Homo sapiens: one gene and its partners. The protein of the gene in region 3 interacts with the protein of the main gene of each other region in a pairwise test. Each region holds a gene or a part of one and is shown on either strand. Other genes may lie near its edges.

Evidence for each region.
Region 1: the proteins of KRTAP17-1 (region 3) and PRKAB2 interact in binary tests that used the Homo sapiens proteins (3 or more experiments, as listed by UniProt).
Region 2: the proteins of KRTAP17-1 (region 3) and ZNF696 interact in binary tests that used the Homo sapiens proteins (3 or more experiments, as listed by UniProt).

The regions. Positions count from the first base shown.
Region 1 is NC_000001.11:147,165,820-147,169,568, forward strand, and holds part of PRKAB2 (5'-AMP-activated protein kinase subunit beta-2), read right to left. Parts: intron 2,115-3,749; coding exon 1,948-2,114; intron 1,121-1,947; coding exon 1,027-1,120; intron 800-1,026; coding exon 679-799; intron 1-678. UniProt on the Homo sapiens protein: Non-catalytic subunit of AMP-activated protein kinase (AMPK), an energy sensor protein kinase that plays a key role in regulating cellular energy metabolism.
Region 2 is NC_000008.11:143,289,465-143,293,213, reverse strand, and holds the start of ZNF696 (zinc finger protein 696), read right to left. Parts: upstream 1,798-3,749; 5' UTR 1,447-1,797; intron 243-1,446; 5' UTR 213-242; coding exon 149-212; intron 1-148.
Region 3 is NC_000017.11:41,314,361-41,317,781, forward strand, and holds KRTAP17-1 (keratin-associated protein 17-1), read right to left. Parts: upstream 1,351-3,421; 5' UTR 1,291-1,350; coding exon 973-1,290; 3' UTR 552-972; downstream 1-551. UniProt on the Homo sapiens protein: In the hair cortex, hair keratin intermediate filaments are embedded in an interfilamentous matrix, consisting of hair keratin-associated proteins (KRTAP), which are essential for the formation of a rigid and resistant hair shaft through their extensive disulfide bond cross-linking with abundant cysteine residues of hair keratins.

The DNA of each region.
Region 1 (3,749 bases), on a different chromosome or scaffold from region 3:
CAGTATCTCACTCTGCTGCCCAGGCTGGAGTGAGGAGGCTCAAACATGCTTCACAGCAGCCTCGACCTCCTGGGCTCAAGCAATCCTCACGCCTCAGCCTCCCAAATTGTTGGGACCACAGGCATGTGCCATTACGCTCGGCTAATTTTTAAAAATTTTTTGTAGAGATGGGTCTTGCCATATTGCCCAGGCTGTTGGTTTTTTAAACCATTTTTTTCCCCACATTTTTTGGACCTCATAAAATCATGAAACTGCTAACTGAGGTCTCAAACTGGCAGGATTAAGATGGGGCAAACCAAACAAACTACACACATGTATCGCCTCTGCTGGGTAATATCATCAAAGGTCAGTGGAAAACTTGAAATATTACTAGAAACAGCTTTTCAAACTATAGGCTGTAGCCCATTAGTGATTATAAAAGATAACATGGAAAATAGAGTGTATCCCATGTAATAAGGTAAACATTGTATCATGAGACTTGTGTTACAATGTGTGTGTTTGTGTTTGCTGCAAATAAGAGACCTAAATGTTTACAGGAGAAAAATCTCTGTCTCTCTCTCTCCTCCCCCCAACCCCCTGCTCTCTCTCTCCCTCTATATGTATATACACACATAAACAACTTTTAGGAAGGAACTACAAGAAAGACACAGCAAGAGAGAGTAAATAATACAAAATTACCTCTACAAGATGTCTCAGAACTTTCCATAGAATCTAACTTTAAAGCATCGAACACCTCAAAATCAGATTTCTTGACATGGATCAAATTGTTAATTGTGCCAAGCTGACTGGTAACCACAGGCTGAAACAGTGAATAGAAAAAATTATTGAATCTCTCTTTCAAATCCATCTCTTCCATCCAACCTTCCTCTTTTACTAAAATTTACACGATTGTTCTCAGCACCTCCACGTTTTATCAAGAGAGAAATCCTCCAGTGTAGGGGAGCAGCTGCCCATCAGTCTTGACAGAAATGACAGCTAAAATGAGACTGCTAAGTCAATGGTTACCCTTGGAGATCAAGGCCTTACCTCTGATGGATCATGAACCCACTGTCCATCCACAAAGAACTTGTATTGGTGCTCTCCCTCAGGGAGGTCCAGGATGGCAACAAAGTCATTATGGCTACAGAAGAAAAAAGAAAGGCAAACAGGCCAAGTTCCTTTTAGAAGACTGAATCTAAAAAACAAGTGGCAATCATAGTATCATATGAATAATTTCCCAGATTCCTAAGCCATTGTATCCCCTGGTGTAAAAAACAACGTATAAACCCATTCTCCTTTTCTGTATCATCTTGGACATGTATTTACCAGCTCCTCCCAACAACGTTAGTTCTTAACCAATATCTGGAAAAGAATAATAAAAACATTAATCCCCTCAAATGGTTCACCTTAGTATAACTTACTTTGCTTCAGTAGAACAAGTTCCTCACCAGTGCAAATAAGATAGGTAGGTTTAGGATACAGAAGTGCCTCAAGGTACTCTTTCCCTGTTTTGGTGAACCTTTTCTAGAGAATGAACTACCATACAAAGGGCCATTCTGACAACCAGTTAAATCACTCATTATTGCTTTGGAAGCAACAAATAACATGACTACCTAAAAATTCAAAATGTGTTTTGCTTTAGTGCAGAAGTCAGAGCAACAAGACTCAGACAGTTACAAAAGACTTCCCACAAGCATAGACAGGACTTGTATGACATAGTCCTAAAGAATGTAGCCATAAAGCTATTATGAATCCCTCTGAGGCAATGAAATTCTAAAGGGTAAAACATCTCTGACTCACTATGAGGTTAAAAAAAAATCCCACAGATATACTAAGTGGCCGCAGAAAAGGGCATGTTCTAGAGACAGTCCTTAGTAGGTGGAGAAAAGTCCAGCTGGGTCTCTCTTCTGAGAAAAGAAATCAGGTCTCTATTCCTGGACCCTTAGATTCAACCAAGACACTTGTCACCTCTTAATCAGTGGAATCTTGGTGCTCCAATTGTTGAAGGACCCAGAGATGAAGACCTCCTTGCCTCCTTCAGACCAGCGGATAACAGTGGGCCGGGCCTGCTGTGTGGGCTTTACGGAGTCCTCCAAATCCTGCTGCCATGATACAAACTCTTTGTCCCCAGGGAGCTGTAAGAAGGAGTAGGTCATCCCTAGAATAAACTGTGACCCAAGAATTCTAAAAAGGTCACTCTCCTCCCTAGGATAGAGAAGGGTGCTAGGCTTTGGCTAAGGATATAAACCCCAAAATTAGCAACTAAATCAGAGTTTGAACAAATTATAGAAAAAGAACTCATCTAGGACCAAAAATGGTCAAATGGCCTATGCTCAAGCACTGCCTAAATCATAGCCTAACTTTTGAGTCTACCTGTGTCACTTACCCTTCCAGAGCCTTAGACTCTCCCTTAAAAAAAAAAGAAAAAAATAACTCCCTACCACTAGTTTAACTCATAGGCAGGCAATTATGATATGCTTCTGAGTCTTTCTTCAGAGGAAAAAAAAATGAAAACAAAGTATGGTTCTGTAAAAGATAATTAAGTCAGCCATATATTTTTATAGGCAAATATGAATAGCTCTCAATTACCAGTTGTAATGGAAGTCAGAGATATCAAAATTCATAAGTAATTCATAAACTGTATTTCAGCTAAGAAGTAAAAAGAAGAAACATTAAAAATTCAAAAACTAGATCACTGATTTCTTAAAACTTGAGAAGTGGCTATGAAATCTTACTTATTCCCCTATCCCAGGCTTATACTAATTATTTCAGGAGTAGGAATAAAAATTCTAGAACCTCAAGAAGCAAGAGATCAAAAATACAATTTCCTTTATCAAAAGTAGCTCTCTTATCAAATGAGGTTTATGGGATTGTAAAAACAGTAACTCCTGTTTCTTTTCATTACTATCCTTTGGACCAAGAGTTGGCAGACAGCCAGTAAGCCAGATGCTTTTATCAAGTGTTATTTGAAAACAGCTCTGCCCATTTGTTTACCTATTATTTTACTGATTGATTGATTGAGAAAGGACCTTGCTCTGTCACCCAGGCTGGAATGCAGTGAGTGGTGTAATCATAGCTCACTGCAGCCTCGAACTCCTGGGCTCAAGCCATCTTCCCACCTCAGCTTCCAGAGAAGCTGAGACTAGAGGTGTGAACCAACATACCTGCCTTGCTTACCTATATTGTCTATAGCTGCTTACAGGCTACAGTGGCAGAATTGCGTAGCTATAACAGAGACTGTATGGTCTACAAAGTCTAAACTATTTACTATCTGGCCCTTTACAGAAAGATTGCTGACCCCTATTTTAGACTGGTTTAAGTGACTTTGGTAAATAAGACTGTATAGTATTAAGCCTAAATATTACTAAATTGAATAATGTGGGTTTTTTTTTAAAAAAAGGACTAGCTTATTCATTTGGGCTTTCTTTTCAAAATGGTTGACATAGCTTCCCTCCATACATTCTCTTGATATTCCTCAAAACTACAGTATAGCATATCAGTAGCAGGATAATCCAAAGTAAATAGAGAAAGAGAATTGAAAGGACTTTCACATAAGGAATTGACTTAAGAGAAAACTACATATTCTCAGAACAATGCACTCTTGACTAACTGGCTGCGTTAGAATTACAAGAATTTGACATATGCCTAAGAATAACCCTCAGATTCGGATGTAAGATCTGGGAACCTATTTTTAAAAAGCTTTCTAGATAACACTGTGATTATGTTAAAATAAAGGAAAAAAAGCTTCCCAGATATACCGTGATTATGTT
Region 2 (3,749 bases), on a different chromosome or scaffold from region 3:
TGGGCCTGCGTTTACCTCCCTCCCTCACCCTGCGCCCAAGGACACAGTATATGCTCTGCGTCAGTGACTGAGACATGGTGTTTTTCCTGTATTCCTGTTCAATTCCTGCCCTGGAACTCTGGGCCCGACTGTGGACATGTCCCCTCACCTGCAAGGGACTCCATCAGGGTACTGCTCTCTTTAGCACCTGTGGGCTCTCCTCCTGGCTCCATCTTGCAGAACACCAGCAGTTGGAACAATTTCTGCTTAGGTAAAAGAAAAGGAAAATAAATCACAGCCAGGGCTAGGTACAGGGGCCAGGGGCAGTGAGGTCAGAATGCCTTCAGAGGAAACTGTCAGAACAGGCCCTGTGGGAGCTGCATCACCCAGCTGGGCCCACTCCTGTCACTAGCAATCAAGGTCCTGGCTCAACAGACACTCCCAGAAGCGGGTGTTCTGTTCTGTGGGATGCCCAGGAACTCTGGTCCAGGCTCTGCGGGTCCCCCTCCACCCAGGGCTGACGCAGAGCACAGGTGGGCGTGGCCACAGCTTCCTAGCTCCATGCTGAGGAAGCCCGCGCCCTCCAGCAGTCTTCAAATGTCTAGAGAAATTCCCATGGGTTTTAAAATTTTCTTGGTAGTTATAAGGATTTGAATATAAAAATGTTAAACCAGAAGAAAAGAACAACTTATTTGAATGGTAAAGTTTTGGAATGAGGAATGATTTTTCTAAGCCTGACATCAGATGTCTGACAAATTCAACTACATAAAAAAATTTAATGTAAAAAAAAAAAACCAAAAAGGGAGGAATACGTGCAATGCAAAGATTCATCCCTATCTGATAAAGACCTCTATATATTAATGAGAAAGGAAGGAAAATTGGCAAAGATCATGAATAGGTAACTCACAAAGAAGAAAAACCAGTAGGCAATACATTTTTTTAGGTCTCACCTCAAGTGCAATTAAGAAATGTAATTTGGCTGGGTGCTGTGGCTCACAGTTGTAATCCTAGCACTTCAAAAGGCTCAGGATGGAGGACTGACTGATTACAAGAGTTCCTGACCAGCCTGGGCAACATAGTGAGACCCCGTCTCTACAAAAAATCAAAAAATTAGCCAGGTGTGATGGTGGGCGTCTGTAGTCCCAGCTACTAGGGAGGCTGAGGTGGGAGGACTGCCTGAGCCCAGGAGGTCTAGGCTGGGGTGAACCGAGATTTCGCCACTGCACTCCAGCTGGGCGTTGGAGTGAGACCCTGTCTTAAAAAAATAAGTAAATAAAGTGATTAATTAGTAAATTTAATTTAAGCCGCCTGTAATCCCGCCTGCCAGGGAGGCTGAGCGGGAGGATCGCTTGAGCCCAGGAGTAGGAGGCCAGCCTGGGAAACATAGCGAGACCCCGCCGCTTTTACAAAAAGGTAATTTAAAGTGCAATTTTTTAGTCTGGAAGCAGATTTTTGCAAGTACCTTACCGGCAAGAATTAGGGAACAGGCCCTCCTGTTCACAGCTGGGAAGAAGCTCGATGAGCTGGGCCGGTGGGAAATTTGACAACTTACAAAGGCCTGAAGACGCGCAGCGGGGACTCAGCTCGCAGGAAGCCCCGCACGTGTCGGACCCCGGGTACGCACCTGCAGGGCCGCCTCCCCCACGCCGCGCCCGAGAGCGGCTGGGGCCTGCACTGCAAGGAGAGCGCGGGACGCGCGGGCCACGGCGGCGGTGACCGCCCCGTTCTCTCGGCCGCGCCCTCAGCCCTCCCGAATCGACACCCCAGCAAGAGAAGCCGGGGCCTCAGCGTCCAGAGCAGCTGGACTGCACCCGCTACGGTCCCCGCCCCGTCGCGCGCCGGAAACGCCAGTCTCCACCCCTGGCCCGCCCCCTCGGCACTTCCGGCGACGCTCTGGGCAGCGGGAGGACAGCGCGCTCGGCGGCGGGAGAGCGGGACGGCCCAGCCGCGGCGCCTTCAGCTCATCGGTTGCCCGCAGGCGCCGGCCGAGTCCTTCCTGCCGGGCAGGAAGCCCTGCCTCGTGGGGGGCAAGGTCGAGCCGTTGGCGCGCCGGGATCCGGCTCGAGCCAACTGAGGACCGGGCACCCGCAGGACGTGTCAGGAGGTGTCGAAGGCCCGCTGTGGGGCGGCCACGCGCGTTCCCGTCCGTTCCCCGCGGCGTCCCGCGCTTGTCCCGGGTCCCGCTCGGCTCACGGGACCCTCCAGGCCCCCGGGGCTGTGGCAGCACGCGGGTCCCGAGCGTGGGCTTCCTTGGGGCCGAGAGCTTGGAGCGCCCCAGGCGCTGCCCCCCGCCTCCCTGCAGGACGCCGCCCTCGCGTCTCCGCTGCAGAGAAGCCCTTGCTGCCCGCCTCTCGCGGGCTCTGGGCTCTTTCTCACCAGGGACCGAGCTCTCATTCGTTCAGCCTTCCCCGGGCAAGATGCACCTCCTGTCCAAGTCTCTCGCCCTTCCGCCTGCCGCAGACCGAAGGTCACGCATCTCCAGCTGGAATGCTGCAAAAGTGACGCTTTTCATCATGGGTGCAAAGTGTACAGCTGCAATGTGGACTTGTTCCCTCTTACAACGAGTAGACAGACCCTCTCTGGGGAGAAAAGAAAGGCTGAAGAACCGATTCCCATGAGAGAACCCTAAGAAGACAGCAACAGAGGGCCAGACGCGCCCCTGGAACTGGACCCTGGACTGGGGCGGGAGGGCCACAGCCTTGGGAGCCCAGGTCCCTGCCCGCGCCTCCGACAGTCCCGCGCCGCCGCCACCCGGCATCTGCCTCTGGGCCTCCACATCTCGTGCCTGGAACCGCGTTCATTGCGCACTGCACCAGTAAACACCTGAACACTCCCACCACATGCTGCACGTTTATTTGTAACAAATTAGAAGCTGTTGTAAAAGATAAAAATTAAAACACTTAGACTGGGTGGGCGAGAGGCTCATGAATGTAATCCCAGCACTTTGGGAGGCCAAGGCAGGAGGATTGTTTGAGTCCAGGAGTTTCAGACCAGCCTGAGCAACATAGTTAGAACCGTGTCGACTAAAAATTTTTTTTAAAAATTAGCCGGGCGTGGTGGCCGGCGCCTGTGGTACCAGCTACTCGGGAGGCTGAGGCGGGGGGACCACTTGAGCTCGGGAGGCGGAGGCTGCAGTGAGCCGAGATTGGCACTGCACTCCAGCCTGGGTGACAGAGATTCTGTCGCAAAACAAAAACAACAACAACAACACACACCACACACACACACATCTAAAAGAGATGATGTAGAAGTACAAGTAACCGTTTCCCTCTGCATCCCAGTGGAACGTCGTGGGTCTTCTGAAGACCCTCTCTTGCCCTGCAGGCTCCGGTACTCCAAGCACGCGAGTCTGCGCAGGAGGCGCTTCGCTCTCCGGAGCTCCCCACTGCCTCCTAGACACAGTCCCGGCTCCTTACCCCGGGCGGAGGCTCTTCCAGACGGGTCCCGACTGCCTCTGTATGCCCACTGCTGCCGTGCCAGAAGCCACTGCCCTCTCCTCGCCCCTTTCCAAATGTGCCCTGCCTCAGGCCCGTGTCATGCTGTTCCCTGTGCCGCTTTCGCCCGTCCCCTCACTCCCCGCCACCAGAACCGGGAAGGCGGTGCCCCCTTTCCAGGCCCAACTTCCGGCACTGAACCTCTAGGAGTCCGCAGCCTCCTCCGCCCGGGCCTCTCCCCGCTGGCTCAGACCGCAGGGCCAGCAGCCCCGCCCACACGGAAGCCCCGCCCATCAGGCCGACCCCGCCCCTCCTGCCTCGGCCCCGCCCTCGCCT
Region 3 (3,421 bases):
GTTTTACCAAAGCCTCCTTTCCGACTTTGCCAGAAAGTTCTGATCAAGCCTGAAGCCCTCCTGCAGAACCATCCTAGGAGAGCTGTAGTGCAGAAGAAAGCCATGCCCCTCAATCACCATTAAATGTGGCCAGCATCAGCATTCACCCAGGAGCTTTTAAAAATGCAGGTCCCTAGGGACTCTAGGCCCTAGAGCTAACGGGTAAAATCTCCAGTGATAAAACCCAATGATCTATATTTTTAAAAGCTTTTCAAGTGAATCTCATGCAGCACACGGAAGCTTCCGTCTAGATCTATGGTTCTCAAACTTCAGTGCATAAGAATTATCTAAGGTTCTTGTTAAAAACACAGATTCCCAGGCCACACTTTGGTGGATTCTGATTCTGTATGTCTTAGGGAGGGCCTCAGAGTCTCCAGTTTTAACAAGCTCCCAGGTGATTCCGACGCAGGTGATCCAAAAACCACAATTCAAAAACCCTAAGGCAGATGCCAGAGTGAATTTTTCTAACCCAGTCCTCAGCAGGGAGGTCAAGGAAGAGGCAAGAGAACTAATTAGGTTATGCCAGCATGCTCAAATTTATTAAGAGGCTCACAAAGAAGATGGACCTTTTTTGCATCTCAAAGCTGCAGAAAGCCAGGGCGGAGGATCAGTCCCAAAGACACCTTGAAGAAGAGGATGTCTTATAGTACAAGACATTGAACTTCATGTGAATAAGTAAAGTATTGGGGATTCACCCTTGAGCTTGGGATCACTTAGTTGTGACCGAGTTTTAATGTTTCATCAGAGTATGGCTCTTGTTCTCGGTGCCTTGAAATACCAGAGAAGGTGTTGGAGAACAAGCCCTCCTCTACAAATCACAGAAAGACAAGACACTGTCTTGGGGGTATGGAAGGTTCTGGACACGAGGGGCTGTCCCCCTGGAGCAGATGGAGGCTTTCGGTGGGACTGCATCAGTGGTGGAGGGAAAGGTCTTCATTTTGTGTCGCATATAGGTGTGGGCTGGCAGCACACAGGCCCACAGCACCCGGAGCCGCAGCAACTGGACCCACAGCAACTGGATCCACAGCAGCCACCCCCGCAGCCTCCGCAGCCTCCACAGCCTCCGCAGCCAGATCCACAGCAAGACGATCCGCAGCAGCTGCCCCCGCAGCCAGAGCCCCCGCAGCCAGAGCCCCCACAGCCACAGCAGGAGCCGCAGCAGCCACAGCAGCCCGGCTGACAGCAGCACTCTTCACAGCAGTTTTGCTCCTGGGTGCAGCAGGTGAAGCAGTCCCCCGGGCAGCACCCCATGGTCCGGGCCCGTCAGCTCGCAGGTCGGTAACGCAGCCGGAGTTCCCCACGACTGACGGTGGCCAGCCATCTGGATGGCAGCTTTTATATCCCCTCACCCAGGCATGAGGGACGGGATGTTTTCTTTGTTATTATTTATGCAAGTTTCCATAAGACCGGCTCATTAACTGGCTGTTTATTTTCCAGTCCTGAGTACCTCAACTCATAAAAACGCCCCACTCCTGCCAACTGCTGTTTATCCAGAGGGTAAAAATACATCTTCGAAAAGACCTGTCATCATGGCCAAGCATCTGCCAGCTGTCATTAGCCCAGGTTGGAGATGGGAAGGGGAAGCCGGCCACAGCTTCTGGCTCTGGAATGAGGGGCTTGCCTTCCACATCTTCGCAGGTTGGCGATGGACCCCATCTTCCATGGATGCTAGTCCTGGAAAGGCAGACCGGCAACAGCCGAATGCTCTGTTCCCCCTGACACCAGTGGAGGCTACTGAGAACGCCTGGTCACGTGGCTCCTCCCAGGTGGAAATGGCATCCTCATCCCGGTTCATGTGAGCCAGGCAAATGTTTGTGTCTGTGTGTGGTATGGGGAGTGTGCCACACGTTTAGGCTTGGCCGGTGAGCATCAGTCATGAGTAATAACTGCCCTGTGAAACCGAGAGAGACTCATCGTAAAGCTGCAAGAAGCTGGTAAGGCATGGTCTGTCTCGGCGGCAAGGTGAGCTGAATATTCGCACTTCTCTCTAAATAGGTGGGAAGAACTGAGATCAGAACCCTCTACCCACCCCCACTCCAGCCCCAGGCCTTTCCTTGACCGGGGAAGGAAGAGATGCAGGAGGAGGAAGAAGAGGAGAAGGGGAGGAAGAAAGGAAAGAAGAAAAGAAAGAAGAAAGCAGGAAGGAGATCAGTAAATATCCAAAATGCTACATTAAAATGGGAATGTAACGCACTTTTTTTAAGAGTTCGAACCTTATAGACCATCTGGCAGAAGGAGAAATTAGAATACAAAATACCCAGAGTGTCATCCCAAGGAATAAAATGCCTTTGCAAGGAGTCTAAAATCTACAGATGGTTCAGGTCCATGTGTAAATTTTGAGATGGGTCAAAATTTCTGTCTCTTTCTTGGACTTTGGTACCTTGTTCTCCTCTTGGAGTGCCCATGGCAGCCCTGGAGCTGGAATACAACATCTAGTAGGGGTAGAGGACAGAAGATAGGGGTGGGGTGGGAATGGAAGGAGGGATGGGAGTAAGGATCTGGATCAAGGGATCTAGTCCTTCCCTTTTCATTTCCCTTTCTTTGTAAGATGGGCTAGAAGTAAGACAGCCTCTAAGAAGGGCTAGAAGAACTAAGGACAGGGTGGGAGTCGGGAGGGTAAATGATGAATGAGTTACTTGGATCTGATATGATACTCAATACTTCACAGGATATGGAATTTTAGAGCTGGGAGGAACCCCTGAAACATCATCTGGTCCAGGGTTTTATATCAGAATTGCCTAAAAGGGGGCCTTTTGAAAAATACAGATTCCCAAACTGTATTCCAGTCCTTATGATAAATCAGAATGTGTGCTTATGAGAGCTTGAGAAGCTATATATTTTAAACTTTCTCAGGTAACTTGGGTTACATTAGGAAACACTGATATAATCTAATCCTATCATGACCATCACTGCCAAGCACTTGTGTTTTACAGAAGATGATACCAAGGCCCAGAGATGACACATCCGTGGTAGATTGGACCCATGGCCCAGATGTTCTCCCTCCTGGTCCACTGTTTCTTCCACCATACCACATCCACAGATGGGCACCTCTGAGTGAGTATAATACAGCAATGTCTATGGCAGACGTGTCCTTTTTTGTTTGTTTGTTTGTTTTTTTGAGATGGAGTCTCACTCTGCTGCCCAGGCTGGAGCGCAGTAGCTTGATCTTGGCTCATGGCAACTTCCGCCTCCTGGGCTCAAACGATGCTCCTGACTTAGCCTCCCAAGTACCTGGGATTACAGGCACGCACCAACAAGCCCAGCTAATTGCTGTATTTTTAGTAGAGACAGGGTTTCGCCATGTCGCACAGGCTGGTCTGGATCTCCTGACCTCAAGTGATCTGCCCGCCTCGGCCTCCCGAAGTGCTGGGATTACAGGCGT